7 linked regions of the Homo sapiens genome follow. The protein of the gene in region 1 purifies or fractionates together with the protein of each later gene. This does not show direct contact. Each region holds a gene or a part of one and is shown in the gene's direction. Other genes may lie near its edges. The genes, in order: DHRS3, CLPX, C12orf75, CCNY, CYSTM1, CCNYL1 and GNG4.

Region 1 (4,167 bases):
TCGGTTTCCTTATCTGTAAATCAGGAGAATAATTTGTACATGAGTCTGGCACGTAGGGAACATCATCATTGTTTGGATCTAGGGTCAGATGCTTTTAAATAGTCATGAGAAGCCCCTGATGTTTGCTTATGCAATCATTCATTCATTCATTTTGAGATCCCATGGAAAGCACTGTGCAAATCTTTGAATCAATGAATCAGTGAGTGAGTTAGTGAACCAGCAAGCTGAGCCCCAGCCATCGCTAGCCAAGCCCCTGCCTCCAGACAGAATGAGCAGGACACATTTGGGAAGCAGCAAGTCATCAGTGTGTTCAGTCCTTCAAGTATTTATTGAGCACATACTATGTATCAGATGCTGTGCTAGATGCAGGGGAGCAGGACCGACCAGGCCTCCACCCTCATGGAACTCATTGCCTGATGGCGGAGACAGGCCACTGACAAGGAAACAACCCAAAAAGCAAGGTCTTCCTAGGTGGGGTGAACGCGGTCAAGGAAATTAGCAGGGGACAGGATCAGAGGTCGCTTTGGATGGACTGGCCTGAAATGTCTCCCAAAGGAGGAGCTGGGAGGAGAGAGCCAGGCTGTTGAGAGAGCTGGCAAAAAGCCCTGACCCGAGCATGTGATGTGACAAGAACAGAAATGGGCCTGTCCTGAAGGAGCAGAGTGTAGGGAAAAGGACTCAGAAGGACAACCAGGGCCCAGATTACGCAGGGCCATGGAAAGGCCAAGCCCTAGGGCACTGGGAGCCCTTGGAGGGCTTGGGAGAGTGGGTCCCCAGTGGGTGGGCTAGAAGTCCTTGACTCAAGAAGAGACCCCTGTGTGCCTGGAGGAGTGAGGGAATGTGGCACCTGGATGGGTGTGGGGTAGAGGGAGTATTCCAAGCAGGCCTCGAATCTCTCAGACAGGAAAAGCCAAAGGGTGACCCAGACATGTCAGCCTCATAAAGACTTCCAGATAAGCACATGCCTCTCCAGGAGAAACCCACTGTGTCTCTTCCTGTGTTCAGGTTTCCCAACCTCTTTCCCCCACTGAAGCCGGAGACGGTGGCCCGGAGGACAGTGGAAGCTGTGCAGCTCAACCAGGCCCTCCTCCTCCTCCCATGGACAATGCATGCCCTCGTTATCTTGAAAAGGTATGGGGCTGGGAAAGAACACTCTGGGTCAGGGGAAAGTACGCATGTGATCTATTAGTCATGTCTGCTGCGGGCATGAGCATGAGGAGTGCTGGCACATTTGCTGCTGATGTACTGTACTTACTGTGGGGCAGCAGTTCTCAAACTTGTTAGTCACGGGGCCCCTTAGAGTTTTAAAAAGTATGGAGGAACCCAAAGAGCTTTTGTTAATGTGAGTTGTAGCTATCGCTATTTACTATATTAGAAATTAAAAGCCAGGGCCAGGCGCAGTGGCTCACGCCTGTAATCCTAGCACTTTGGGAGGCCGAGGCAGGTGGATCACGAGGTCAAGAGATTGAGACCATCCTGGCTAAAATGGCGAAACCTTGTCTCTACTAAAAATACAAAAAGAAAGTAGCTGGGCATGGTGGTGGGCGCCTGTAGTCTTAGCTACTCGGGAGGCTGAGGCAGGAGAATGGTGTGAACCCAGGAGGTGGAGCTTGCAGTGAGCCGAGATCGTGCCACTGCACTCCAGCCTGGGTGACTCAGCAAGACTCCATCTCAAAAAAGAAATTAAAAGCCAGAAAAATGTTGTAAGTTGTATACATTTGTTTATAATATTTATTCATTTATAAATAGCTATAACAAACCCATTACATTAATATAAATATATTTTTATGACAACTAGTTATGTATTCTAAAACAAAATAAATGTAGTCAGGAGTGGCATTGTTCTACCTTTTTGCAAATCTCTTTGTTTGGCTTAATTGAAGACAATTGGATTCTTATATGTGCATCTGATTTCAATTTGTTGTGATATCTCGTGTCACGTAGCCTCTGGAAAATTCTACCATTCACTGAGAGAATGAAAGTGAAAAGACAAATAACATCTTAGTATTATTACAGAAACAATGTGGCCGGGCACGGTGGCTCACGCCTGTAATCCCAGCACTTTGGGAGGCCGAGGTGGGTGGATCACCTGAGGTTGGGAGTTCGAGACCAGCCTGACCAACATGGAGAAACCCTGTCTGTACTAAAAATACAAAAAAAATTAGCTGGGTGTGGTGGCGTGTGCCTGTAATCCCAGCTACCTGGGAGGCTGAGGCAGGAAAATTGCCGGAACCCAGGAGGCAGAGGTTGAGGTGAGCCGAGATCGCACCACCGCACTCCAGCCTGGGCAACAAGAACAAGACTCCGTCTCAAAAAAAAAAAAAAAAAAAAATTGACCTCACAGACCCCTGAAGAGATCCCGGGTACCCCAAAGGTTCCTGGACCTCACTTTGAGAACCACTGTTCTACAGCCTATTGGACATAGCCCCTGCCCTCAGGAAGTTTACTATTAGAGGGAACATGGGGATCTTGATGCCAAGGGCTCAGAATTCACAGAAGCGTCTTAGTACCAGTCGGGTGGGATGTAGCAGGGCAGACCACTTTGGGGAGGCAGGCTTTATAAATGAGAGACTCCTCCTCCAGAATTTGCCTGGCATCCTATTCCCCTAGAACTTTCCAGGCTTTGTGCAGCAAATCCTTCCCATCCCAGTCCCACACTCAGTTTTCTTGGGCCTCTTAGTACAGCAGGAGATCCTTGTCCCTGGTGCCACAAGTGACCATGGGCTCTTGGCTCCCCTGGGGCTCTGGCCCCCTCCTGACTGAGCCCCTCTGACCTGGAAGTCCTTTTCAGGAAGGTAAGCCCCCAAGTGCCAGGCTGGCCCCTGCTCTCATGCAACATGCACTCCCAGGAAAGCCAACTTCTGCCCTGGCTGCTGGGACATGGTGAGCCCCAGCTGAGGGGCTGCCCCAACACATGCAGGGCACAGAAACCTCGAAACTGAGGCGCAAGCCCGATCAGCCCTCTCTTCCCCAAACTCAAAGCCCTTTCAGAGGCACAGGGAAGGGGGCACCCAGGGGCATCCAGGCCACACCTCGGCCTCCCTCAGTCCATCCTGACCTCGGGTCTGAGATGCTCCTCAGCCGTCTCTAGGAGCCCCTAGTTGATCAGGGGCTCAGGTCCTCACTGAGGTCAGGCTGCCACCCTCCACCTCAGGGGAGCTTCTTAGAAGACTTCCAGAGCTTTCTAGAGAAAAGTTGGTCTAGAACACCTCAGCGCTCTCCACAGTAAGCCCTCAGCCTTCATTTTCCAACCTTCCCCACAACTACTTTTGAACAGGAAGCAGGAGCCACCCCGCTCCCCATTCTCTGAACTGCATCCCTCCTCACCTTCCCCAGGAGAAAGCAAGGCTCAACTCTAATACCACCACCCCCAGGAAGCCTTCCAGATTGCTCCAGCTGGAAGTGAACCCTTTTCATCTTGTACTTAGAGTGGGCCAGGACCCTTCAGTTTGAGTCACCAAACAGCCTGAGGGCCCTCTCTGTGCCGGGCCCATGTGAGGGCCTGGGGATCAGAGATGAAATACCCGCCATGAAGGCCCCCACAGGCTTGACAAGTAAACGGGTGGGGACTACACCAGGGCTTGCTGGGGAAGCGTCGGAACTCCGGTTGTACGAGGAGAAGCCTGAAGGTGAGCCCAGGACGCTTCCCCAGAGGATGTGACACCCAAATCGAACCTGATTCCTCAGATCCACACCGTCATCTTTGTGGAATCAGGGGCAGTTGGGATCGATGGATCTCTGAGCTGCCTGTGGGCACCAAGATGCTAAGAGCCTGGTTTTGAAAGTGTGTTGTATGAAGGGAGAGAAGGTCAGCACTCCCCTCGACAAGGAGCACAGACAGATTAAGCCATTGTCACCTACTTAGTGGCACCTAACCATCATTTGTTTTTAATGGGTACAAAAAATAGACCGAATAAGAACAAGTCTTTGATAGCACAGCAGGGTGACTATAGTTAATAATAATTTAATTGTACGATTAAAAATAACTAAAAGGGCCGGGCGCAGTGGCTCACGCCTATAATCCCAGCACTTTGGAAGGCCGAGGCAGGCAGATCACCTGAGGTCAGGAGTTCAAGACCAGCCTGGCCAACATGGCGAAACCCTGTCTCTACTAAAAATACAGAAATTAGGCGGGCATGGTGGCGCATGCCTGTAATTCCAGCTTCT
Region 2 (4,767 bases), on another chromosome or scaffold:
CCCGGCGTGGTGGCGGGTGCCTTTAGTCCTGGCTACTCGGGAGGCTGAGGCAGGAGAATGGCGTGAACCCGGGAGGCGGAGCTTGCAGTGAGCCAAGATCACGCCACTGCACTCCAGCCTGGGTGAAAGAGCGAGACTCCGTCTCAAAAAAAAAAAAAAAAAAAAAAAAAATCCAGGCAGTTTAACTAATTTCAGGAGTTTTTGAATTATTTATTTTTTAATCAGGGTTTCACTCTGTTGCCCAGGCTGGAGTGCAGTGGCACACTCATGGTTCACTGCAGCCTTAACCTCCCTGGGCTCAAGTGATCCTCCCACTTCAGCCTCCACAGTAGCTGGGACTGCAGGTGTCTACCACTATGCCCAGCTAATTTCTGTAGAGACAGGGTTTTGCCATGTTGTCCAGGCTGGTCTGCACCTCCTGGGCTCAAGTGATCCATCCGCCTCAGCCTCCCAAAGTGCAGGGATTACAGCCGTGAGCCACCAAGCCCGGCAGGAGTTGGTTAATATTAATTCACCAACCATTTCATTTCTATTCACTAAAAACTTAAAAAATTTACCCCAGGTTCCAAGCTGTTGGCAATAACCAACTGTAGAATAGAGCTTTAGCTACTATTAAGAATAAAGTTTTTAGGGCTGAGCTTGGTGGCTCATGCCTGTAATCCCAGCACTTTGGGAAGCCAAGGCAGGAAGATTGCTTGAGCCCCAGGAGTTCAAGACCAGCCTTGGCGACACAGTGAGACCCTGTATCAAAAAAAGAAAAAAATATATTTTTAGAAAATAAAAAAAAATAAGAATACAGTTTTTAGAGTCTCAGATAAATGAGTAGCTTTAAAGTTAATGTCTGAGAAAAAATTAAATTTACTAAAACACATAGATACTGATAGTATAATGGCTTTTGATTATGTAATGCCTGTTTCTGAAAAGAGTAGTTTTATAATGTTATCTTTGTGAAGAATGTTATTCATTTGATTGACAGGTATGGATTTATTTTAATGATTTACATTAATGTTGATACTTTTAGACCATGGTGGCATGTGTATGTATTCTAAGTTACTTTAAATTTAATTTGTTATCAAAAAATAAAGATTGATAGCATTGTTTATAGAATAGAAATTAGCACAACACTAGTAGAGTACAGTGATACTTTGTTAAGCTAGAGAACAAATGAATTGTGTTTTTGTTCATTTAGTGTTCAGGGCCTCTGAATCATTGCTATATAATGTATTGTCATTTTGTTTTTAATGAGAGTCTTTGTTCAGATTTAAAACTGTAAGCAAATATGCTTAGTAAATAACTTTTTAATGTGTGTGCTCTTATAATAGCTCATATTAAATTATTCATACCTAATCATTTTTCAGATTTATAACTACCTCGACAAGTATGTTGTTGGCCAGTCATTTGCTAAGAAGGTGCTTTCAGTTGCTGTGTACAATCATTATAAGAGAATATATAATAATATCCCAGCTAATCTGAGACAGCAAGCAGAGGTTGAGAAGCAGACATCATTAACACCAAGAGGTAGCGTTTTTGATAATTGACCTAAATAGAGATTGCTATGCTTAAAAGTAATCTTTATTTGTAACTCCTCACTTTCTTCTTAAAATGTTTTTTATATAGTGTGGCATTTTTCAAAGTGCAGGTTATTCCCCATTAGTGTGTTATGAAATCATTTGCCAACAGCATTTTTTAAAAATTTGATAGATATGAATAGAAAATAACAGAATACATTAACTTACAGTTAAGGTAAATATTATTTCTTAGGCCTGGCATGGTGGCTTATGCCGGTAATCCCAGCACGTTTGGAGGCCGAGGCGGGGGGATCACTTGAGGTCAGGAGTTCGAGACCTGCCTGGCCAGCATGGGAAACTCCGTCTCTACTAAAAATACAAAAATTAGCCAGGTGGGGTGGCACATGGCTGTAGTCATTATACAGTATACTGTATAATCTCAATTTACTATGGACAATAATGTATATTAATAGAATGATTTATTAAAAACAATTATGCATAGAGTAAATATGAATATTTAATTTTTTGTTTTGTTGGCCAGACAGCCCCAATTTCTGATTTAGGCCTATATTCCATCATTTTAGATTCTTTTAGTTATCACTGTACAGTGTGAAGGAGTTCTGCTAAGTACTTAAATTTATAAGTCTACATTATCTTTGATTGCCTTTAGTAGCAACTAAATGTATAATTTATTTCAATGAAGACACTTGTTCACTTGCTGAACTTACATCACATAACTGCAAAATAGGTATGTGATGGTATCAGTTATTTTTAGAAAGTATAAGTCATAACTAACGGATGACTTGGAACCTTTTTCTTTTTTTCAAGACAAGGTCTCTCTCTGTCACCCAGGCTGGATTGCGACTCACTGCAGCCTCAACTTCCCAGGCTCCAGTGATCCTCCCACCTCAGTCTCCCAAGCAATCCATCTGCCTCAGCCTCCCAAAGTGCTGGGATTAATAGGCGTGAACTCTTGCGCCTGGCCTGAAATCTTCATTTTTATAAGGTCCAAATAGCACTGATAGTTATGGAGCAAAACTTTTTTGTTTTCCTCGGTAATAAATAGATATTTAAGCTATTCTAAGTGCTGGAGGAGCAAATGGTTATAATATTTATAGCATGAGGGGCTTAAACTCTTATTAAAGACTTATGTTATTATACCCTTACAATAGATATCAATTATATATTTGACAAATGTGAATATTAGCAACTGGACAGCGGTCTTTATGCATGGTTTTGTTTTAATATAGAAAAGATATAGCATATATGAAAAGCTGAAAAATGTTAATGAACAAATCCTTTAAATATATTTGAAAGAGGACAGGAGGTGGGATACTCATTGTTTGTTCCCCCAAGGTAAACAAATATGTAATATTTTCATCCTCTTTCTTAGAGTTAGAAATAAGAAGACGGGAGGATGAGTACAGATTTACAAGTAAGTGACTTCAGGTCCTCCTCTGTAATCATTCTTCCTTTTGACATTTATTTCAGTGAAGTGTTTCAGCAGTAACAGTGATAGACATGTATGTATTTGCTTGTGTATTACCAAGAAAGATACGTATTATCTAAATGTGTTTATCCTACATGGTATATATAACTTTGGAATAGTTTTTCATAGCTAATTTGTGTCGTTTCCATATGTTGGGTTATTTTTTATTTTTTCTATCAAACTACAATTAGAGTTGGCCTGCTTCTTGTGGGTCACAGGAATTTGGGGGAGGCAGATTATTTTCTAGCTACTCTTTGCCAGAAAGCACACTGTTTTTTGGTTTTTTTTGTATTTATGAAACTTACAGTCTTACAAATTATGAGTAAGTCTTAATTCACTGTTTCCAGCCCCAGATTGCCCCTACAAGCATCAGATGGTCCGATGGAGGGTGTGGAAGGACTTGATAGACCAAGGAGAGTGGCCTTTCTGTTGTGTTCCACCTATTCCTTTGGAGGTGGATATAGTTAGTTGCTGCATTGAGGGTGGAGGTTCCAGGGGTGTCATAGAAAGATTCACATGGCCTTTTGTTTTAGTAATTGAAATAAAGAAAATTAGCTAAGTTTGATGTTTTTACATTTGCCTTTGAACCAAGTAGTATTATATATCCACTATTTGAAGTGTACTATATATAGGATGAGCCATGAGAATATAACTTGTGTACCAACTTGGGCATGACATTTATCACATGTAATAAAATTACATTATCCCCAGTTATTTTTAAATTTATAGAAATACTGATTATACCATGCGTGGTAAAATTAAGAAATACAGTAAGTGCAATAGAATTAGATTGTATATAAGAATGTAAAATCTAAATAATAACCTTTAGGTATATATGTAATTTATTTCATAATAAAAAAATATATTCAGATATGCAGTCAATACCATACTCATAAATTGTGTTGACAGCTAGTTAACCTATACTAAATTAGTAAAGAAAGTCTGTAGTGCATATTTTGAAAGACATGTCATGTAATATATGTAGTGATTTAATGTTATTTAAATGTTAACAAGTAACAGTATTTAAGAACTTATGTAAAAGATTGACTTAGAAACAAATATTTCAAAAGCTTAAATTTATTGTCATGTGCAGTTTTGTTGTGTTTTACATGGGATTTTAAGTTCTAAAGTTAGGTTGTTAACTAACACTGGCTGGGGGTGTTAGACCCTAACACTGGTCTAGGGTTTTAGACCAAAATCATGTACAATAAGATTAATTCTTATAAGTCCCTTTGGAAGTCAAATTTTAGAGACCAACATACAGCTTTTAGGAGGACTGACACAATTGGCTTTTTTTCTCCATCTTTGGAATATAATGTTGTTTTTTAAGTTGAGCACCAGATGAAATACTTTGTTTGCGTTTAAGGGCTGTGTTGTGTGAATAATTAAACACTAGGGAAATGGTAATAATAATACCAGATTCTTCTGTAACACTTATAAAACTATCTGCCAGGTATTGTTCTAAGTGTTTTGCATATATTCATTTAATCTCCCCTAAACCCATGAGACAGAAACTATTATTTTTATCTCCATTTTAGAAGTAAGAAAACTGAAACACAGAAATTTTAAGTAATTTGTCCGTGGCCACACAGCTGGTGAGCTCTGTGCAGCTAACTACTACACTAGCCTGCTTGCTCATGGTCCTCATTTTAGAGAGCTGTGCTTACACAGTGAGAGATGCACAAACAGGGACTAACTGAAAGAATCGGAGAGTTGTCTCAAGTTTGTTCTAAGGCATATACTCATAAAATGGGATGATGGATATCATCT
Region 3 (4,767 bases), on another chromosome or scaffold:
GTAATAAGAGAGCCTATTGTAGATTCAGTGAGTTAATGTGTGTAAAGTGTTTAGAACAGTGACTCGTATATTGTAAGTACCCAATATACTACTTGTTATCAGTATAGGGAAAGACACAGCTGGTGTAGAAGGAAGGCGTGAGCCACTGAAGGCGTGTACGTATAGAAGTGGCATCATTCACAGCTGCTGTCTGCGCTCAGAGAAGTGCTGAGGGCCTGGATCATGGCTGTGGGCCCTGAGGGGTAGAAGCGTTGAGGTCACAGATACGTGGAAGACAGTTGAGCTAAAGAGAGGCTGCAGATGTGGGATGAAGGAAGAGGGAGAGGTAAAAATTAAACTGTTAGAGCCTGGGTAACTGGAAGGAGGTTGCTACTCACTCTAAAAGTAAGGTAGTAAGGGGCAGGTGATCAACATACTCGACTGTACCATGTTTGAAGTGATGATGAATAAAGAGAGGTGTGGAGACCCCTCTGCTCAGGTAGTAATCATTGGTGAGACAGAACCAAGAAGCTCTGTGCATCATTCGCTTGCTGTGTCTCCCCAGAATTGATGGCATCCAAAGCGAGTGATTGATTTCTGCCATTGTCACAGCCTGGTAGGTTCTTTTTGCCCACTGCCCCAAACAAAACCAGCACGGGCCGGGCACGGTGGCTCACACCTGTAATCCCAGCACTTTGGGAGGCTGAGGCAGGTGGATCACCTGACGTCAGGAGTTTGAGACCAGCCTGGCTGACATGGCGAAACCCCATCTCTACTAAAAATACAAAAATTAACCAGGCGTGGTGGCGCACACCTGTAATCCCAGCTGCTTGGGAGGCTGAAGTGGGAGAATTGCTTGAACCCAGGAGGGTTGCAAGTGAGGCTGCAGTGAGCAGCCTGGGTGACAGAGCAAGATCCTGTCTTAAAAAACAAACAAACAAACAAAAACCAATGAGAACAGCAGTTTTTGTGGCAAATAAAGAGTTTAATCATTTCAGGGCTGGCCAAGTGAGGAGAGCAGAGAGAAATTTCTCAAACCTGTCTCTCTGAGAATTCGGAGGCTAGGGTTTCTTAAGGGGACTCTGGTAGGCAGGGGGTTACTGGGGAATTGGAACAATTGATTGGCTGGGGATGAGGTCATAGGGGCATCTAAAACATCTTTGGGCAGTAAAGTCAGTTCCCAGGAAAGGGTTGGTTCTCAGAACCAGGTGGCATCTCTTGATCTACCAAAATGTGAAATCTGAAAACTATGTCAAAGGCCAGGTCTTTAGGTTTCACAATACTGATGTTATCTATAGGAGTATTTGGGGAAGTTGGAAATCTTGTAACCCCTGGTTACGTGACTCTAGTGCAGTAAGCAACTTATAGGAAAGCATGCTAAACAATAGCGGGTCATTGTTTATGCCTATTTTTTAGTAAAGTTTAAGCCCCTACCAGAATTTTAACCTTGCCATATGAATGCAGCTTTGATCTTTGAACAAGGATGGGGTATGGTGGGGGGTGGGGTCAGTTTTCCTTGCTTCAAAGTGTAACTATAAACTAAATTCCTCTCATAGTTATCTTGGCTTCCATGTTAGAGTAAGAGAAAAAAAACCTATGAAATTAAAAGCAAAGCAAAATAGAGTCAGTTATATTAAATTTCTCTCATTATTTATAATTCAGCAAAGGCAGTTTTACCATGAGCCACTTATAGCTCCATATAGACATGGCTTAAATTTTATTATATCAGCTAAATGTCAGTGCACTAACTTATGCCTGTACTTCTTATATGGCTGCATTTATCTTTCATTTATTTATTTATTTATTTTGAGATGGAGTCTTGCTCTGTCACCCAGGATGGAATGCAGTGGCATGATCTCGGCTCAGTGCAACCTCCACCTCCCAGGTTCAAGAGATTTTCCTTCCTCGGCCTCCCGAGTAGCTGGGATTACAGGCATGCACCACCGCACCCAGCTAATTTTGTATTTTTAGTGGAGATGGGGTTTCACTGTGTTGGCCAAGCTGGTCACAAATTCCAGACCTCAGGTGATCCACCCGTCTTGGCCTCCCAGAGTGCTGGGATTACAGGTGTGAGCCACTGCGCCTGGCCATTTTTTGGTTTTTACTTGCCTAAAGTATAGCTGCTTGTCTTAGTTCATTTTTGTGTTGCTATAAAGGAATACCTGAGACGGGGTAATTGATAAAGAATAGAGGTGTATTTGGCTCGTGGTTCTGCAGCCTGTACAAGAAGCATGGCACCAGCATCTGCTTCTGCTGAGGGCTTCAGGCTGCTATCATTCATGGTAGAAGGTAAAAGGGAGCCATAGTGTGCAGAGATCACATGGCAAGAGTGGAAGCAGTAGAGAGAAGGGAGGGAGGTGCCAGGCTCTTGCTAATGACCAGCCAGCTCTCATGGAAACTAATACAGTTAGAGCCCACTTGTTACCACCAGCCATTCATGAAGGATCTGCCCCTATGGCCCAAACACCTCCCATTAGACCCCACCCCCATGAGATTTGGAGGGGACAAACAAACCAAACTCTAGCACTACTCAACAAGGACGACCTATAAAAATGAGATTTTCTATAAGAGCTTCCATTTTCATTGACATAATTTTATGTCAATATATAATTTTATATTTCTAGGACACATTGACCTGAATTTTTTTCCTCCATTATTTGAAGAAATCACTTATGAATCTGTATTTTTTTATTGCACTCTGAAAAATAAGCATTGCTTTGGATGAAGTAATGAGCTGTTGTTCCATTTCTTTTGGCCAAACCAAGACTATGACATAGTTTTATAACTATTGTGGGTCAGAAGAGCATAGCAAGCTGTCAAAATTAAAGAGAATTTTATTTATTTTTCTGCAGTTATATTTATATAGTTCTCGGAGGGACTGTTTCTTTTCTAAAACAAATAAGGAGTAAGACATTCTTGCATGTTTTTATTATTTCCCATAAGAACCATAGGCATTTATGTTTCTGATAATTTATGCTGAAAGAAGAGTGCTTTTTAAATCTTCAGTATTTTTTTTTTTTTTTTACAAATTCTTCACATACATAATTTTATTTCGGGTGTGTGTGTGTGTGAATTATCACCACTTGGTTTGAAGAATGTAACTTAATATGTAACTTAGCAATTCATTTACCTGTGAATATTTCTAGTATATTTTATAAAGTCTAGAGTCTATATAGTATGGTGGTCATAAAAGGTATTAATGGACTAAAATGTATATGACCTTTTCTTTCTTTCTTTCTTTCTTTTTTTTTGAGACGGAGTCTTGCTCTGTCACTCAGGCTAGGTGCAGTGGCGTGATCTCCGCTCACTGCAAGCTCCGCCTGCCGGGTTCATGCCTTTTTCCCGCCTCAGCCTCCCGAGTAGCTGGGACTATAGGCGCCCGCCACCACGCTCAGCTAATTTTTTGTATTTTTAGTAGAGACGGGGTTTCACTGTGTTAGCTAGCTAGGATGGTCTCGATCTCCTGACCTCGTGATCCACCCACCTCAGCCTCCCAAAATGCTGGGATTACAGGCGTGAGCCACCATGCCTGGCCCTTGTTTCTTTTAAAAGATAAAAGTATGTTCTTCATAATAGACTTTGGCATTTGGGAGGAAATACTCACATCAATAAATGTTTGAATCTGTATAATACTGAAGACATGCTGGACAGTATGATTCATGGTTTTTAATGTATACGACAGGCTGATTAGCTCTCAAAGGACCATCTGTCTGTAGGAACCAAGATATTGTGTCCATCTACTTAAAATTACTCAATGCAGGTGGGGCGTGGTGGCTCACGCCTGTAATCCCAGCACTTTGGGAGGCAGAGGCGGGTGGATCACAAGGTCAGGAGATCAAGACCATCCTTGCTAACACAGTGAAACCCCATCTCTACTAAAAATACAAAAAATTAGCCGGGCGTGGTGGCATGCGCCTGTGGTCCTAGCTACTTGGGACGCTGAGGCAGGAGAATCGCTTCGACCTGGGAGGCGGAGGTTGCAGTGAGCCGAGATCGTGCCACTGCAATCCAGCCTGAGCAACAGAGTGAGACTCCGTGCCCCCGCCAAAAAAAAAAAAAAAAAAAATTTACTCAGTGCAGTATCTTGTAGCTGGCTTGTGTTATCATTCACGAGGAATAAAGTTCCGTTTGTGTCGTGCATGATACATATATTACATTTAGTTTCCCTCCAGATACTCATTTTGCTCTGTATTTTAAAAGAGAGTATTTTTTGGAGACAGGGAAGGACAAAGATAAGAAGGTCTAGTGGGTTGAATGGTAGCCCCCAAAAAGATATGTCCATGTTCTCTTTTCTGCAGTGAGTGAATGCAACCTTATTTGGATAAAGGATCTTTGCAAATGTAATAAAGTTAAGGGTTTTGAGATGCGGAGATTATACTAGATTATCTGAGTAGGCTCTAAATCCAATGAGAAGGGTGTTTATGAGAGACACAAGATGAGAAGACGGACATAGAAGGGAAGGTGATGTGAAAATGGAGGTGGAGCAGAGATGATGGGGCCACAAGCCAAGGAATGCTTGCTGCACCAGAAGCCAGGAGAGGCATGGAATGGGTGCTTCCCTAAGGCCTCTGGAAGGAGTTTGGATCTGCTGAGACCTTGATTTTGTACTTCTGGCCTCCAGATCTATGAGTGCATAGATTTCTGTTGTTTAAACCACCCAGTTTGTGGTAATTTGTTACAGCAGCCATGTGAAACGAAGACAATATTTTTCTGCAGTAGTTCAGAAATGAGACAAAATCAGAATATAAGAAAATGTATTAAACTGTATACCTGGAGTATAAATAATTC
Region 4 (3,926 bases), on another chromosome or scaffold:
CTCTCTGCACTATTTCTGCGCGCTGTCTTCTGAGCTTTCTTCCTCACCAGTGGGCTGTGCTTGTTCCATTTCTGTACACCCTTATTTTATACCGTTTTTCTTCAACAATGGCGAAATTGACTGTAGTGCTGAACCAAAAGTATCCCTTTCCCTCCTTATTCCTCACCCCAAGAACATTCTAGATCACATGGGTGCTTGTGCCTTCCGATTTTCTTGCATTTGTTTTTTTCCTGACCTGAAGTTGTTGTTACAAAATCAGTCAGACTTTGTGGGCTGAAGGACACGGTGCAGCAGAGGGTGTCCCTGTGAGAGTTCTGCAGAGTGCTGGGCATGTGCCTGGAACTACCGAGTAGGAGCCATTTCTTTGTACCCCTGCCTAATCCATTCCTCTCCTTCCAAGTCCATTGTTGCAAGCAATATTCTTCTCAATTTTTATATGTTTACTTTAAATCAAAGTTAGTCTATTTGTATAAAATTTTTAAAAAATCTAAAAGAAAAAGAAAAAAAACAAGGGTGGGTTGGGTATTCCAGTGGGAAGATCATTGAAGGGAAAAATGTTACTATTTACTGAGGTATTTTTCACAGAATGATTGAATTAAAAAAAACTCAACTTGCATTTTCATTGTGGGTGCTTAGAGAAGTTCTACAAAATTCAAACTGTGAAGGTTTATGCTTCATTAATTATGACCATACTTTTTCATTTTCTGACGATCCCTGATTTCCTTATGGACTCAATAAGAATCTTTTATATCAAGTAAAATGAAAGTTGATGATAGAATATCAAATAGTGAATTTGATATGAAATCTAAGAGTGTGAGTCACTTGCATATGTAATGCTTTGGGTTTTTGCATATTTTCTTAGGTCACAGTGACAGGTTTCTGAGTTGTTTCCCTTTTCAAGTCTCTGGGAGGCCAGTGGCAGCAGCAGGTCTGTGTTTCACCTTCTTCCCATGTGAGCTTGGAAAACTTTGGCATCTTAATTAGTCTTGAATCATACACCTGATCCCCAAACATTGCCTGCTCTCAATGAAACATGCTTTGGAAATGGAAGGGACTCAGAAAGTCGAAATCCCAAGAACTCCAAGCCAAAAGTGTTAGGTTTTAGTGAAATTTGTGTCAGGTATAAGCATACCTGTTTGGGCCAGAATTATTATCACAGCCTTTCTGACCCAAACTTTCAAAAGCAAATAAACAGCATATAAAACGTTAATTATCTTTCCATTGTAATTGTGATGATCTACTCTGTATGGGTACCAAAATCACCTTCTCTCTTCAAGTCAAAGTTGAATTTAGAACTTTGAATACAGGTCAAAAAATGTAGAAAATATCATTTTATATTCCCTAATCTATATAGCTGAAAAAGGGTTGTATTTTCTTAGCTGAATATGAATACCTCTTAAACATAAATTAGTTCCTCTCCAGTGAAGTATCTTATTTTACCAATCCATTTCAGGAAAGAGGTTCTGCTGCCGTAAAGGCAGAAATTTTATTTTTATCCCTTTTATTTGAATGAGAGATTTGAAAATCGAATTATGTAAATATTTCAATGCATCTGCTATTATTTTGTGGAGTTTATTAAACTACTTTAAAAAAATTGTATAGTCTATTTATTGTATGTATGTACATACAGTCTGATACCTAAAATTTAAAGTGGATTCCATAAAACCAGACTCAAGTCTTGTTTAGACTACTGAATACTGTTTTAGCCTGTGCCCTGGATTCTACCTCTGTATAGGAAAATTTTCCATATTCATTAATTAGTGTTGATCTGTATTAATTGGTTATGTTTCTTGCACTAAGGATGTTTAAAACTCCGCTGTAAGTGTAGATTTTAGTTTTACTGGCAGGATGAATCACTTGACACATAGGTAGATACTTGAGGTTCATTTTCTTTTCTTTTTCTACATGATGATGAATAGTTATGTTTTCTTCTCTGATTTGTTCAAAGTTTGCCAAAAGAAAACACAAAACCAGTACAGTACTTACTGATAAATCGTAGTGACTGTAATTTGTTTGTAAGGCGAATTAATGCTCTACAATTAAAGCTGGATTACTATTGAGGAACACATTGTCTTAGTGTAGTTTTTGAATGGAAAGTTTTTGTCATTAAGGATGAAGGAAACGACACAATTTGTTACTTTAATTTTATATTTGATTTAAACAACAAATAAAGTCATTGGGACAATAAATATATATCCCGATGAATCTTTTTGATTTGTTTTACTTTTCTTATTTTTTTTTTTTTAACTAGAAAAAGGGAAAGAAGAAGTCAGGAGTTTAAAACCAAATTGGAGGGCAGATGAGAAATCCTGCCAAGATCGGGATGTGCCTTCATGCATGAGGTGAGGCCAGAGGTGTGGGCACCTGTACCTGCCTCCTCTTCTGGGCTGGCTTTCCTGTCTGCCTGCTCTCGGGCTTGGGCAGAGCCATCTCCATCCTGGGGTTTCCTTTAAGCTAAGCTGAAAGCAAAATTTGGGGAGTGAATGATTTAAACTTTTCCTGCTGCTTTTGGTAACTTCTCACCTGGGGCCATATTTTACAGATTTGAATTTTTTTTTTTCTTTTTTTGAGATGGAGTCTCGCTCTTGTCACCCAGGCTGGTGTGCAATGGTGCGATCTGGGCTCACTGCAACCCCCACTTCCCGGATTCAAGCAATTCTGCCTCAGCCTCCCGAGTAGCTAGGATCACAGGCACCCACCACCATGCCCAGCTGATTTTTGTAGTTTTAGTAGAGACAGAGTTTCACCACGTTGGCCAGGCTGGTCTCAAACTCCTGACCTCAAGTGATCCACCCCCCTCAGCCTCCCAAAGTGCTGAGATTACAGGCGTGAGCCACTGCCCCTGGCCCAGATTTGAAATTTTTTAAAAATAAAACATGATTCTTGGTTATTGTAGGTATTTAATAAATGTTAAATAAATATATACATAGAACAAAGTAGTGCCTGCCTTCCTGCTGTGTTTTTTGAGTTAGTATATTGAGATAAAATTCAACAGGTTTTATGGATGCTGAGTGAACCAGTTCTTTGCAAGAGCAGTGGTAGAAAGTGGTATTGGCCCTGTGTTCTTGAGCGACTCACAAAAGTATGAGAGCTACTCCAGCAATTGAGAAGTTGCACAATAGAGACCTAATAGAACATGTCACTTTCATATTGATACCCCATTTTGTCTGAAACCACTTTATCTCCCTTGATGTCATTGGAGTCAGCATCTTGGGTGGGTCTTAAAGACATTATCTTCTGAAAAGTCAGCCATGATGAGGTCCTACCCTTGTTGAAAAAGAGAAGGAAACAAGAAACATGCTCTTGCACTGAGACAGGAACAGGATACTTAACTTGGGTTTTATATATATATTTATTTTTAAATATATATATATTTTTAAACAGAGTCTCACTTTGTCACTCTGCCTGGTGTGCAGTGGCACAATCATAGCTCACTGTAGCCTCCAACTCCTGGGCTCAAGTGATCCTCCCGCCTCAGCCTCCCTGGGACGATGGGCCTGTGCCACCATGCCCACCTAATTTACTTGTTTTTTTTTTTTTGAGATGGAGTCTCACTCTGTCGCCCAGGCTGGAAGTGCGGTGGTGCAATCTCAGCTCACTGCAACCTCTGCCTCACAGGTTCAACTGATTCTCCTGTCTCAGCCTCCCAAGTATCTGGAACTGCAGGCACACACCACCACACCTGACTAATTTTTGTATTTTTCATAGAGATGGGGTTTCACCATGTTTGCCGGGCTGGCCTCAAACTCCTGACCTCAAGTGATCCGCCGGCCTCAGCCTCCCAAAGTGCTGGGATTACAGGCGTGAGCCACTGCTCCTGGCCAGGCTAATTTTTAAATTTTCTATAGAAATGGGGTCTTGCTGTGTTGCCCATGCCGGTCTTCAACTCCCAGCTTCAAGTGCTCCTCCTGCCTCACCCTCCCAGG
Region 5 (4,767 bases), on another chromosome or scaffold:
GAGGCTCTTGAGTCCTTCTTGTGTGCTATAGAACAGTGTTACTCAAAGTTCAGTCTGTAGACAAATGCCAGTCAATGAACAGTGAACAGTTATGGACTATATTATATGTACAGAAAGTGAGAGTAAACATTTAGAAACTTTTAGAGCAATTTGGTTTTGCTGTGACATCCAAGTATGTAATCTTGCATTTTACAGAAAGTATCAGTCTGAAAGATTAAAAGTAAAACATCTTGAGGAGCACTGTGCTAGATGTCTTGGTCACTATTTTGTAGCCCTTTGGTTGGCAGAATAGCTGCTCTCTTAATTAGCCCTTTCAGCTTTTTTTTTTTTTTTTTTTTGAGACGGAGTCTCACTCTGTTGCCCAGGCTGAAGTGCAGTGGCGCGATCTCGGCTCACTGCAAGCTCCGCCTCCTGGGTTCACGCCGTTCTCCTGCCTCAGCCTCCTGAGTAACTAGGACTACAGGCGCCTGCCACCACGCCCGGCTAATTTTTTGTATTTTTAGCAGAGACTGTGTTAGCCAGGATGGTCTCAATCTCCTGACCTCGTGATCCGCCCCCCTTGGCCTTCCAAAGTGCTGGGATTACAGGCGTGAGCCACTGTGCCTGGCCAAGATAGCTAATTCTTAAAAAGTGCTTATTATGGCCAGGCACAGTGGCTCATGCCTGTAATCCCAGCACTTTGGGAGGCCAAGGCGGGCAGATCACCTGAGGTCAGGAGTTCAAGACCAGCCTGGCCAACATGGTGAAACCCCGTCTCTACTAAAAATACAAAAACTAGCCAGGCGTGGTGGTACGCGTCTATAGTCCCAGCTACTCAGGAGGCTGAGGCAGGAGAATGGCTTGAACCTGGGAGGCAGAGGTTGCTGTGAGCCAAGGTCACACCATGCACTCTAGCCTGGCGACAGTGAGACTCCATCTCAAAAAAAAAAAAAGTGCTTATTGTGTGTCACATGGTCTCCTAAGTGCTTTATATACATTAACATTTAATCCTTGCAACAATCCTATGAAGTTATTCCCATTTTATAGTGATGTAATAGAGGTACAAAGTTAGAGTAATGACTTGCCCAAGGTCACCTAGCTAGAAGGGGCACTTTCTAGATTAGAATCCTGATAGCTTGGCCTCAAAATCTGTACCTATAATTTATTGCTGTACTGTTGTTCCTCTCCTGCCTTTTCTGAGCTGACTCACATTCATCTGAATTTAGTGACTTATGCTTCCTCTTAGAGATTTTCCTGTCATTTAGTTCTTTACTAATCAAAAGTAATAACAGAATTGATGGCTAATTTTATTCTAGGACTTGATGATTCTCTAGAATAAGAATTTTGCATTCATGGAAAAGATTATACTTTTATAGTGGCAAAGCTTATACTCTGTTAAGATTGAATAGAATATTTGAATACCTTTAAAGAATTTAATTTATCTGGAAGGAAGCTTTTGCAATCCAAGATTGTGTTCTGTTGTAACAGTTTTTATCATGCATGCTCGGAAGAGGGCAGGAAGTATAACCAGTATAATCGGAGTAGTTGGTATTCAGGCCTGTGACATCAGAGAAACATTTTCTGAAAATAAACCTCAGCTTCTGGGTTTTCTGCTTCAAAATAAGGTAACCCTGTGATGAATAAAAGAAAGCAGAAAAGACTACATATGGTATGATTCCATTTATGTGAAATTCAAAAACAGACAAAAACTATGTATGATGCCAGAGATCAAAATAATGGTTACTCCTGGCTGTGGAGTTGGGAAACTAGGGTGGGACTGGTTATTCATTGGGTTAGGAACAAAGGAACTTTCTGGGGTGTTAGGAATATTCTGTATCTTAATCTTGATATAAACATTCTTCAAGATAGATAGTTATGACTTGTGTACTTTGCTGTACGTTTTATGTCAGCAGAGAAAGATAGCCCAGCATTTGAGTTATCCGGTAGACTCAACCCAATGCCTGCCTGGTGTTAGGTCTTTCACCTATAGCCCTCATGGTCTTCCTGTCCATTTCTAGGCCAATATTGTTTATACTGACTCTCTAACTAGCATTTGATGAGTTTAGAACTTTATTGAGTTTGTTTAGAATAAGTGCTTCCTAGGTTCAGTGGACTTTGTCCACTGTTCATGCAGAAAATACAGATTTGGTCATCTTTCTTACCTTTCATGTAATTTAAGTATTGATGTCAGCCTTTTTGATGAAAAATAATTTCTTAATTCTTTTTAGGGTTAAAAGGCTCCTTAGTTCAGTGTTACCAATCACGATTGATTTCACAAATGCAGTTGAAAGCTGTTTAATATCCTTTCCTATGGATATACCCAGGAATTTATTTCTCTGTCATTAGCTTGTGAATTATTAACTGCCCAGATCCTTTCTGCACCCAAACATAGCAGGTAGTGCCAAATGGTCAAATTTTGTCACCTGGGGTCCATGTTCTGTGAATGGGACTCTTGGAAGAATGTAGCCTCACTGAGTGATGAACCCTTTAGGGACCCATTTTATTCCTTGCTTTGGTATTGCTTGTGGGATTCTCAGTCAGAATTATGTGTTCTCATGCTGTGTATCTGAGCTCTATATGGAAATTTAAGCTTTTTCTTTCCAGCTGAATGATTTTAGATTTATCTACTACTGTAGATACTCTCTCCACTCAAGTTCAAGTGTGTGGCATATTATGTTAATGGATACATAGGTAGAAATGGTTTCTTTTTCAAAGGAGGGAGGATCTCCTTTATCCTTAATTGGCGTCTGGTAATTAGTTAGGGCTTAATAAAGGTGTGATGAATGGATGAGCAGGGTCGGGTAGATGGCTAACCTAAGCAGAACCTTCCTTGGTCATCTGTTTATGTTTTAGAATTCATGTGTCAGAGATTGTAGCAAAAAAACCCACCTTTTGTTTTTTTAAGAAGCCAACCTTTTGGAAGCCATGTGATTGGAAGCAGCAAGTGCTTGTAGGAATAAGGTCTCCCAGAAGAGCATACCTGCAGATTATGTCAAGGATCTCCTGGGTGGTTTTTAAGAATAACAACTAGTATTTGTTGAGCACCATGCTTGGTGTTAGCTTTATGTAATCTTCACAACAACCCCATAGTATCAGTCCCATGTTATAGGAGTGGAATCTGAGACTCAGAAAGGTTGTTTCAGTTATCTGTTGTATAACATATCACCCCCAACTCACTGGCTTAAAACAACAATGATTTATTATTTCTCATGATTCTCTGAGTTGGCTGGGAGGCTCTTCTTGCTTCGTGTGATCTTTCGTGGGGTCACTCTTGTTACTTAATTCAGCTGTCAGCCTGTCTGGGTGTAGGCTATCCAAGATGACCTCACTGACATGAGTAGGGTCTTGGTTTGCCTCCACGAGGCCTCTCTCAGCACATAGTCTGTCATCATTAGGTGGTCTAGCTTAAGCTGCTTTACATGACAACTAGCTTCCAATAGAGTGAAAGTGGAAGCTGCCAGGATTTTGGGCTAGGCCCAGAACTGGCACAGCATCACTTACCCCTTATTCCAGTATTCAAAACAAGTCTCAAGGCCAGTCACTTTCAACAGGAGGGGGAACAGATATCACCTTCCTCCTCCCCCTCTTTTTTTGGTATATTCGACATACAATTCATGTACCATACAATTTACCCATTTAAAGTTGTACAATCCAATGGTTTTCAGTATATCAACAGAGTTTTTCAACCATCACCACTATCATAATTCCAGAACATTTTCTTTTATTATTATACTTTAAGTTCTAGGATACATGTGCAGAATGTGCAGGTTTGTTACATAGGTATGCATGTGCCATGGTGGTTTGCTGCACCCGTCATCTACATTGGGTATTTCTCCTAATGCTATCCCTCCCCTAGCCCCCCAACTCCCCGACAGGCCCCAGTGTGTGGTGTTCCCCTCCCTGTGTCCATGTGTTCTCTTTGTTCAGCTCCCACTTATGAGTAAGAACATGTGGTGTTTGGTTTTCTGTTCCTGTGTTGGTTTGTTGAGAATGATGGTTTCCAGCTTCATCCATGTCCCTGCAAAGGACATGAACTCATCCTTTTTTATGGCTGCATAGTATTCCATGGTGTATATGTGCCACATTTTCTTTATCCAGTCTATCATTGATGGGCATTTGGGTTGGTTCCAAGTTTTTGCTATTGTGAATAATGCTGCAATAAACATACCTGTGCATGTGTCTTTATAGTAGAATGACTTATAATCCTTTGGGTATATACCCAGTAATGGGATTGCTGGGTCAAATGGTATTTCTGGTTCTAGATCCTTGAGGAATTACCACACTGTCTTCCACAATGGTTAAACTAATTTACGCTCCCACCAGCAGTGTAAAAGTGTTCCTATTTCTCCACATCCTCTCCAGCATCTATTGTTTCCTGACTTTTTATTGTTTTTGTTTTGTGTTTTTTGAGATGGAGTCTCACACTGTCGCCCAGGCTGGAGTGCAGTGGCGCGATCTTGACTTACTGCAACCTCCACCTCCGGGGTTCAAGCGATTCTCCTGCCTCAGCCCCCTGAGTAGCTGGGATTACAGGCATGCGCCACCATGGCTGTAATTTTTGTATTTTTAGTAGAGATGAGGTTTCACCATATTGGTCAGGCTGGTGTTGAATTCCTGACCTAGTGTTCTGCCCACCTTGGCCTCCCAAAGTGCTGGGATTACATGCGTGAGCCACGGTGCCCAGCCGTTTCCTGACTTTTTAATGATCACCATTCTAACTGGCGTGAGATGGTATCTCATTGTGGTTTTGATTTGCATTTCTCTAATGACCAGTGATGATGAACTTTT
Region 6 (4,767 bases), on another chromosome or scaffold:
CCAGCCTGGGCGATAGAGCAAGACCCTTGTCTCAAAAAAAAAAAAATAATAATGTAGGAAGTACATGGGTTTTTAATAGAAATGGTAACTTTATGGGGCAAAGTAATATTTATGGCTTATGACTCTTGGTGAGTATACAGCAGAATTACAACTGAAATGGACACATATTTTAAACTAACACTTTCTGTGGTACCTTGGTGGTACTTTAGAATAATATGTATTTCTAGGCTGGGCTCAGTGGCACATGCCTGAGAGTGGCTCATGCCTCAGAGGCTCATTCCTCCCAGCACTTTGGGAGGCCGAGGCAGGCGGGATCACCTGAGGTCAGGAGTTTGAGACCAGCCTGGCCAACATGGTGAAACCCTGTCTCTACTAAAAATACAAAAAATTAGCTGGGTATGGTGGCACATGCCTGTAATCCTAGCTACTTGGGAGGCTGAGGCAGGAGAATCGCTTGAACCTGGGAGATAGAGGTTGCAATGAGCTGAGATCACTCCAGCCTGGGCAACGAGCGAAACTCTGCCTCAAAAAAAAAAAAGAAAAAAATAATAATATGTATTTCTACCATAATTAACGTGCATGTGAAGTAATACCTTTTGGCGCGTCAGTCATCAGACCGCTCATATGTTCCAGTATAGTCCAGCACACACCTGCCTCATTAAAATGTGCTTTGAGTATATAATAGCTAATAAGGATTGGGTAGAATTTGAATAGCTGAATAAACATTTTTTTGCACAAGTGTACGTTTGTTATATTTAAGGAATAAGTTAACAGATAACAGATGCTATTGCTGTTAGGAGCCCTATCACAATACCTTTGATATCTTTGGGAATCCAGTTTTTTAATAATATAATAAATTCCCCTTTGTTCTCTGGGAATCTAACCATAGCCCTTAAAGGATATTACCTTGGTGAACTGTCAGGAAGTAGTGTCCCCACAACCTGGCAGTGTAAAACTCAGCCAAAGTAGCTGTAACTGTGAACTATCTAAAGGAGTCCACATGTGTGGCTTTCACAATGGTGCTCTTTCAAAGGCGGGAACCCTTTTTAAAATTGTACCTGTTTTCTATTTGATTGACTTTCCTAGGCTATTTCTAGATTGTGTGAAGACAAAGACTTGTGTAGAGCCGCTATGAGAAGGTCTTTCAGTGCTGATAACTTCATTGGTATTCAGCGCTCTAAAGCCATCCTCTCTTAAAAGGAGAAATGAGGGGTTATAACGTCATGGGACCTTCATCTACAAAGACTGGAGAAATACCACCTTTCCTGCTCAAAAACCAGCAAAATTAGTGTTTTCATCAAAAGGAAAGATCTCAAATTCAAGAGACTCATGGACAACAAGGATTATACTCCACAGGAAAGAATGGGACCTTGTCAATGCAACAAAACACTCTTCTGTCCTTTTTAATGTAAACAGAGTTACAAAAACCACTCCAAAGTGAAGGCTCCCATCCTACACACAGATATTTGCTTACTGTGTGGGCCGATAGCTGTGAACTATGTAAGGTTTTTTAAACAATAGTTTAAATTTTTAGACTTTAAAGACACTAACCATATAACTTTTATGTTTCTTCCAGTTTCTCTCCCTCCCCCCGCATTTTGCTGCATATGCCTTTAAAATCAATGCAGTATTACCATTAAAACATGGGACTCTAACTAAAGCCACTTAGGAGCAGACAGCAGCGTTGTTAGGTACTGAAGGGTTCTTCCTCCCTACTGTTACCATTGAAGCTGCTAGTCATTGGCAATCATTTTAAACCAAAAAGCTGCTGGATAACATTTGTCATTCATATTCTTTGCAAGCATTACTTTAGCATTTTAGCATGTTTGGGGTCATAAACAGAGGAAGTATCAGTTATTGATATCTACTTCTATTGGAGTCCATGTTGCATTTCTTGTGAACTATAAATGGTGCTTCTCATTTTCTGATAATTTTTCTCTTGCTAAATAAATGTATTAAAAGATATTTTCATAATGCCAACCAACATGGTGGTTCAGTGACGATGAGAAAAAGTGAAGCAGTTTTAAGCTTGAATATAGTTTGGGCCCTCCAAGGCACTGCAGCATGAGTATAAATGCTATAAACCTTTAAAAAACATGATTTGAAAGTTTTTTGTTTTGTTTTGTTTGTTTTTAAAGAGATGGGGGTCTTACTGCGTTGTCCAGGCTGGAGTGCAGTGGCTTTTCACAGGTGCAATCATTGTGCACTCACTGCAGCCTAGAACTTCCTGGTCTCAAGCCATCCTCTAGCCTCAGCCACACAAGTAGCTGGGACTACAAGTGCAACTGGCACCTGTCTCCTGAATATTAAGCTTTTAATTTTTTGTTTCGGTCACTCTTGATAGCAGACATTGACTGAAACAAAAAATTAAAAGCTTTATATTCAAAATTTGCAAAATGAAGCTGGGTGTGGTGGTGCACGCCTATAGTCCCAGCTACTTGGGAGGCTGAGGCTGGAGGATTGCTTGAGGTCAAGTATTGGAGGCTGCAGTGTACCATGATGGTGCCTATAGGAATAGCTACTACACTCCAACCTGGACAACGTTATCAAGACCCCATCTCTTAGAAAAATGCAAAATTAAATGCAAAAGAAATGGGCTGGGCATAGTGATTCATGCCTGTAATCTCAGTACCCTGGGAGGCTGAGGTGGAAGGATTGCTTGAGTGCAGGAGTTCAAGACCAGTCTAGGCAACATAGTGAGACCCTGCCTGTAAAAAAAAATAATAAAAATAGTTGGATATGGTGGCATGTGTCTGTAGTCCCAGCCACTCTGGAGGCTAAGGTGGGAGGATCAGTAGAGCCCAGGAGGTCAAGGCTGCAGTGGGCCATGATCATGTCACTGCTCTCCAACCTGGGCGACATCCAGACCCTGTCTCAAAGAAAAAAGCAGAAGAAAAATGTTCAGACAAGGTTTTGTAAAGGTTTGTAGCATTTATATTTCTACAAGTATCAAAGCTTAAAATTACACTGAACTTTTGGAATACCTTGTATCTCCATAAAATGCCCTCTTTTTAAAAGTAGTTACCCGCAGAGCTGTGCTCTATATGCTTTGATTACCGCAGTTTCTTTAAAGGAAGATTTTGAAGAGCAGTGTTAATTAACATGTAATAAAAGGAATTGGACCCTAATTATAGAAGGTGATATGAACAGCTGTTTTATCATCCTACATGCTACCAAGCTGTAGGTGTCCCATTAAGTCCTGCTATTTAAGAAATACTTACATAACCCTTAGGAACTCTTCAGGCTTTAAAAGGCAAGGAGCAAATAATTTTAGGAGACCGATAATGTCACCTAAATTTGAAATACTAAGAAGAGGTTAGTGTTCTCAACTATGTGAAATCTGTTTCTCCTACTTTCTCAAATCTAATCCTAGGAATCTTGCTTATAAACAAAGCATTTCTGGGACAGGAGTACTTCCTCTATTATAGCAATGCTTCACATCATATTGTGCTGCAGTTTCCATCATTTTTAAAGGACAGAGACATAAATGATAAATAATGGTATACAAATATTACAATCTACCACCTCAAAAAAACAAATATTGTTTATGGAATTCAGAGTTTGGAGATTCAAGTATTGATTGCAGTTTTATTTTGAAAAGAATGCTACAATTTATGTGGTTTTTATTTCTCATGTTTATATTAAAAGCTAATAAACTCTATTTTAATTAAAATATGGCTAGTGTGTTTGTAACACTTCTATCCACATAGTGTTACATCTCTGCCCAGCCTAGTTTTAAGTCAATCCTGATATGTCTTAAAGCATTTTCAAACCAACCATAAGTTGATTTGATCCATGCCTCTAGTTAAGATGTAGTGATCCATTTCTTTTGCATATGCTCTTTTCAACCTGAAGATAATTTATTACACTTAAAATCACTGACCACAATACTTAATGGCATAGTGCATTAGATGGCATCTTGAATAGTTGGTTATCGTGTCTGAGAGGGAAAAGCACATTAGAATATAAAATTAAGCAAAATGTATCAAAGAGAAAGGAATTAAAGGAATAGCGTAGAATTAGAACAAGAGGTATTTGAGGTTTTCAGACAAACAGGAAAGAGAATGGAAAGACAGGAACTAGAATTTGTGTTGCTGTTGAGAGGATGTCTTAAGCCACATAATTTGACTTTAATGTGCTATTTTCAAGCTTACATTTCAGTTAAAAATATACCAAGTCACTATTAGGTTTCTTTAGAACTAAGAGTCTAGCCACTCAGCTTTAGCAATTCTCAATAAATCCTGATAGCATTGCAATATTTTCATCCACTTTAATTCTTCATTACCTAAAGTCAAATATTTAAGTAAATGATCACAGTCAGGCACGGTGGCTCACGCCCGTAATCCCAGCACTTTGGGAGCCCAAGGTGGGTCGATCACTTGAGGCCAAGAGTTTGAGACCATCCTGGCCAACATGGTGAAACCTCGTCTTTATTGAAATTACAAAAAAAGACGGTGCAGTGGCTCACGCCTGTAATCACAACACATGAGGTCGGGAGTCTGGCCAACATGGTAAACCTCGTCTCTATTTAAAAAAAAAAAAAAAAAAAAAGCCAGGTGTGATGATGCACGCCTGTAATCCCAGCTACTCGGGAGGCTGAGGCAGGCGAATCCCTTAACTCTGGAGGCGGAAGTTGCAGTGAGCCAAGATGACGTCACTGCACTCCAGCCTGGGCGACACTGCAACTCCGGCTCAAAAGAAATAAAATTAGAAAAACGTTAGTGGGACGTGGTGGCACACGCCTGTAATCCTAGCTACTCAGGAGGC
Region 7 (4,767 bases), about 220 Mb from region 1:
GGCATGTGGAAAACGAGCCCTTCTTTTGAACAGCGGAAGAATGAGGAAGGGCTGAGGGATCAGGGCCGTCTGAACAGCGCCTGGGAGGGAGAGAGGTGGGCGCAGCTGCAGGGGCCTGACGGGACTGAGAGTCGGCTCTGCTGCTTTCCCCGGTAACGTTAGCTGTTCCCTCCCCGCCACATGACCCACCTGTGCACATGTGCACACATCCTCAAGGACTCACACTTATACCCACACACTCACACTCCAGACACAAACACACCCCCCACACCCTCTCACACACTCCATACACTTACACACACGTTCACCCCGCATGCTCTGAGACGTGCCTGTATTCACACTCTCACCTTCACACACACACACACCCCCACCCCACACTCTCCCACACTCACCCTCACCCCCACCCTGAACCCTGACCCACACCCACACACACCCTCACACACAGACACCCAACACTCGCACACATACCCCACAGTCACACACACACCCAACACCCTCCCACACTCACACTCCACCCCACATTCACACACCCCACCCCATGCCCTCCCACACTCACACTCACCGCCACCCCACACCCTCCCACATTCACAACCCCAACCCACACCCTGACACACACCCACAACACACCCACCTCACATTCACACACCCCCACCCCCCATCCACACTCTCACACTCACCCCCCACCCTGTACCCTCACACACGCTCACCCACCCTCACACACACACCCCCACCCCTCACCCTCATACATGCTCACACACGTGCTCACACACACACTCACACACACCCCACCCCTGACCCTCATACATGCTCTCACACTCTCACACACACACACCCCTCACCCTCACACACACCCCAACCCACACCTTCACACACACTCACATACACTGTCATCACACACACCCCACCTCACACACTCACACTCACCCACACCCTCACACATACTTTCTGTCACACACACTCACCCCCACACACTCTCACACGCTCACCCCCACCCCACACTTTCACACACTCCTACTCACCACAGACTCCCTCACACACAGTGCAGAGCCCTCCCCTCCTCCCTTTGCCCTGCTCCATGTCCTCTTGGCTTCACCCCTGCTGATCCCAAACTCTACCTCCTCCTCCCCTGAACCTCCCCCAACTCCTAAATGCCCAAGTCAAAGACAAGGGGCGAGAGGGATGGAGTCTAGAATGGGGAGAGCAGGATCAAGATTTGAAGGCAGTCACTGTAGGGTCTGTAGTAGGCTGTTTTGTGTTGCTGTAAAGGAATACTTGATACTGGGTAATTTCTAAAGGAAAGAGGTTTAATTGGCTTATGGTCCTGCAGGTGGTACAGGAAGCATGGCAGCCAGCATCTGTTCCTGGTGAGGCCTCAGGAAGCTTCCACTCATGCAGAAGGTGAAGGGGGAGCCATACTATCACACAGCAAGAGTGGGAGCAAGAGAGACAGCAGGAAGGCGACACACACTTTTAAACAACCAGGTCTTGGATGAACTCAGAGTGACTTTCACTTATCACCAAAGGGTGGCGCTGAGCCCTTCCTGACTGATCTGGCCCCGTGATCCAGTACCTCCCACCAGGACCCACCTCCCACATTGGGAATCGCATTTCGTCATGAGATTTGGAGGGAACAAACATCCAAATCACATCAGAGTCCTTTTTTCATTGCATCAGCTGGGAAGGGTTGGGAACTAGACTGTGTCTCCTCCCTCATTTTGTGTAGACACACAGCAACGCAGACACACATCAGCACACACACACACACGGAGAGATGGCCACACACAGACTGGCACAAGGCCTGCACGAGCAGGCACGTGGGCACATACAGACACACCCAAGGACACACCAACACATGTGCAGGAACGCGTGCACAGTTCTGCTGAGTGGGGGATGAAGGGGATGTTCCTTGGATTTCAAAGCTCCCAACTTGTCGTGATTCTCCTTCCCTTGTTGTTGAGTTAAAGTTCCAAACTAAGATAAGGACACACATCTATTAAACTCTGATTTGGGTGGCTGATCTGTCTTCTAACGAGAATATTTTACTTTTCAAAAACTGCCTTTGGACAAATGTAGTTGCCATTATGCCTTTCTGGGCCAGAGAATTAGTTCATATGTGATTAAAACCCACAGAGAGAGTGGGTCCCATACACTAACCTACTGGCCAAATAGAAAATTTCTTAAAAATTCTAAATGTTTTGTATGAAGCAAGTATAACATTGATATTTAAACCAGATGAAGGTAGCATTAAATGACTTAATTTATTACTTAAGAATAGTACTGAATTCCAAAATTACTTAAGAATCTTGATGCAAAAATTATCAGAATGTTACCTTATAGAATTTGGTAATATATCACAAAAGTAAATATGCATTTACCTTTGACCCAGTAATTCCAGAAATGTACCTTGAAGACACACCCCCACAATAATATGAGAATATAGATGTAAATGCCCGTAAATATATGGATTGAAAAATATACAGTATATCCACACAGTGGAGTACTGTAGTATGTAGTTCTAAGAAAGAATGAGTATGATCTTTTTTGCATATCAGTGAACTAATATGTGGTGCTTTCTAAAATGTATTGCTAAATATAAAAACAAAGTTCAAAAGCACACACACGTTATCTTTTTGTGTAAGAAAGAAGGAGAAATGAGAAAACATATATGTAACTGCTTACTTTCTAAGAAAATAAACACAGGACCAGCCTGGGAAACATAGCAAAAAAAAATTTTTTAATTAGCCAGGCATGGCGGCACACACCTGTAGTCTCAGCTACTCAGGAGGCTGAGGCAGGAGGATCGCTTGAGCCCAGGAGTTTGAGGCTGCAGTGAGCTGTGATTGCACCACTGCATTACAGCTTGGATGACAGAGACCCTATCTCAAAAAGAAGGAAGGAAGGAAGAAGGGAAGGGGAAGGAAAGGAAAGGAAAGGAAAAGGAAAAAGAAGCATAGGAAAGAATAGTCTGGAGTCCAACGTGATGGGAAGGAAGGAAGACCAGAGGGAGGGAGGAAGGGAAGGAGGGAGGGAAGGAAGGAAGGAGAAAAAAGAAGCATAGGAAAGAATAGACTGGAGTCCAGTGTGATTGGTTGCCCATAGGAGGTAGGTGGGAGGGGAGAAAAGGATTGGAATGGGCAGTGAAAGTGACACCTGTGTGAATATCAATTTGCATCATTTTAACTTTGAAAGTATGGTTGCTGCTTTACATACTCAATTAAATTAATACAATAAAGTCCAACAGTTGTGAGGTGGGAAAAAAACCTAAAACTGAAATAAAATATAAACAGAAGCAGACGAATAATAGATGGTGGCCAGGGCCTCTTCCCACCTCATCTGTACCTTTGGGAGCCAGTGTCACTTGTGTTTCTGCTCTCAGTGACCTGTCCCCAGCTCTCAGGCTTTAGTTTTAGGCTTCCTTTGAAGCAGATTCTCATTAGACGGGGCAATTGCAATTGTGATGTGTGTAGCACATGCTTTCTGTGAAACAGGTAGCACTACACTGGTCTTAGTCACGGGGCATCAATGTGTGTAGGGTTAGGGAGAATTTCTTCTGCCTCCCTCTAGAAAATAAATCTATGCTTGGGATAGGGAAGAAAGAGAGAGAGAGTGTGTGTTTGTGCGTGTGTTTATTGTTGAAAACAAACTCTCAACACAAAGTCTGTAAACTTTTTGGAAGGACAACAAATTAAAATTAATAAAGCAATTTTATTCATTAGAAATGTGTGTTATGAGCCATAGATTGTTAGGAGAGGCCATTTGAGACACTCGGCTAGGCTTCAAAGCTTTGAGTTTGAGTTCTGGATCCACAAATGTTGGCTGTAGGATCTTTGGCTATTGGTTTAATTTCTCTGATTTTTGCACTTTCTTCCTTTGCAAAATAGAAATTAATATTGTCCCACCAACTGTATGGGCTGCTAGAGCAATGAATGAGCAAACGTGTGTGAAAGTGAATGATGACTCAAAGCACTATACGAATGTCCAAGCATTACTTATGGTCGTGGTGGTGATGGTGGTGGCAGTGGTGGGGGTGATGGAAAAGTCATTCTGGAACCTTCTGTTCTCTTCTCACTGTCCCCGGGACTGAGAAAGTTTTTCCAAACAAAAGCATCATGTCTTGCTCCTCTTACTCGAATGAGGCATTCCTTTCTCTTATCCCAGGAGGGTTTTCTACCAAATGCTGTCCATGCTCCCAGATGCTCCCTGGCTTGGACAGAGAAGCTGTAGGTGGTGGGAGGTGGGGTTCCCCTACCCTTGGAAGAGCAGCTCTTCTAACCCTTTTACTTTGGTTACTTCTAGGGGCAGTAGAATGAAAGAGGGCATGTCTAATAACAGCACCACTAGCATCTCCCAAGCCAGGAAAGCTGTGGAGCAGCTAAAGATGGAAGCCTGTATGGACAGGGTCAAGGTAAGCATGCATGCGTCAGCCCCACCCTCCGCCCGAAGCTCAGCTCAAAACATTCCTCCTGCTTCCAAAGCAGACTTGTGAGAGTTAACACGTCACCCAGCAGAGCATGCAGCCAACCTTGGCAGCTGTAACATTTACAAATGAGTGTTTGCTTCACAGTTCTAAGTGTGCCCAAGGATTCAAAGGATGCAAAATACACAGTGTGCATGAATTCCATAAGGAGTCTCCAAAAATAGACTCATAATTCATCTCGGCTCTATTTAGCTCCGTTGTCATGCCAATAAGCAAGAAAGAGAGTTTAGCAATGAGATCAATCACTTTTCTGCTGTGATACAGTGCCTTTGAGGTTCAACAACATCGGA

What was found.
Region 2: the proteins of DHRS3 (region 1) and CLPX purify together in Homo sapiens (affinity purification with mass spectrometry; one large-scale study listed by BioGRID and IntAct). This does not show direct contact.
Region 3: the proteins of DHRS3 (region 1) and C12orf75 purify together in Homo sapiens (affinity purification with mass spectrometry; one large-scale study listed by BioGRID and IntAct). This does not show direct contact.
Region 4: the proteins of DHRS3 (region 1) and CCNY purify together in Homo sapiens (affinity purification with mass spectrometry; one large-scale study listed by BioGRID and IntAct). This does not show direct contact.
Region 5: the proteins of DHRS3 (region 1) and CYSTM1 purify together in Homo sapiens (affinity purification with mass spectrometry; one large-scale study listed by BioGRID and IntAct). This does not show direct contact.
Region 6: the proteins of DHRS3 (region 1) and CCNYL1 purify together in Homo sapiens (affinity purification with mass spectrometry; one large-scale study listed by BioGRID and IntAct). This does not show direct contact.
Region 7: the proteins of DHRS3 (region 1) and GNG4 purify together in Homo sapiens (affinity purification with mass spectrometry; one large-scale study listed by BioGRID and IntAct). This does not show direct contact.

Annotation. Positions count from the first base shown.
Region 1 is NC_000001.11:12,569,692-12,573,858, reverse strand, and holds part of DHRS3 (short-chain dehydrogenase/reductase 3), read left to right. Parts: intron 1-1,005; coding exon 1,006-1,131; intron 1,132-4,167. UniProt on the Homo sapiens protein: Catalyzes the reduction of all-trans-retinal to all-trans-retinol in the presence of NADPH.
Region 2 is NC_000015.10:65,160,780-65,165,546, reverse strand, and holds part of CLPX (ATP-dependent clpX-like chaperone, mitochondrial precursor), read left to right. Parts: intron 1-1,358; coding exon 1,359-1,518; intron 1,519-2,901; coding exon 2,902-2,943; intron 2,944-4,767. UniProt on the Homo sapiens protein: ATP-dependent chaperone that functions as an unfoldase.
Region 3 is NC_000012.12:105,336,406-105,341,172, forward strand, and holds part of C12orf75 (overexpressed in colon carcinoma 1 protein), read left to right. Parts: intron 1-4,767.
Region 4 is NC_000010.11:35,569,732-35,573,657, forward strand, and holds the end of CCNY (cyclin-Y), read left to right. Parts: 3' UTR 1-2,936; downstream 2,937-3,926. UniProt on the Homo sapiens protein: Positive regulatory subunit of the cyclin-dependent kinases CDK14/PFTK1 and CDK16.
Region 5 is NC_000005.10:140,195,122-140,199,888, forward strand, and holds part of CYSTM1 (cysteine-rich and transmembrane domain-containing protein 1), read left to right. Parts: intron 1-4,767.
Region 6 is NC_000002.12:207,752,502-207,757,268, forward strand, and holds the end of CCNYL1 (cyclin-Y-like protein 1), read left to right. Parts: intron 1-1,086; coding exon 1,087-1,197; 3' UTR 1,198-3,673; downstream 3,674-4,767. UniProt on the Homo sapiens protein: Key regulator of Wnt signaling implicated in various biological processes including male fertility, embryonic neurogenesis and cortex development. Activates the cyclin-dependent kinase CDK16, and promotes sperm maturation.
Region 7 is NC_000001.11:235,583,378-235,588,144, reverse strand, and holds part of GNG4 (guanine nucleotide-binding protein G(I)/G(S)/G(O) subunit gamma-4), read left to right. Parts: intron 1-4,296; 5' UTR 4,297-4,306; coding exon 4,307-4,405; intron 4,406-4,767. UniProt on the Homo sapiens protein: Guanine nucleotide-binding proteins (G proteins) are involved as a modulator or transducer in various transmembrane signaling systems.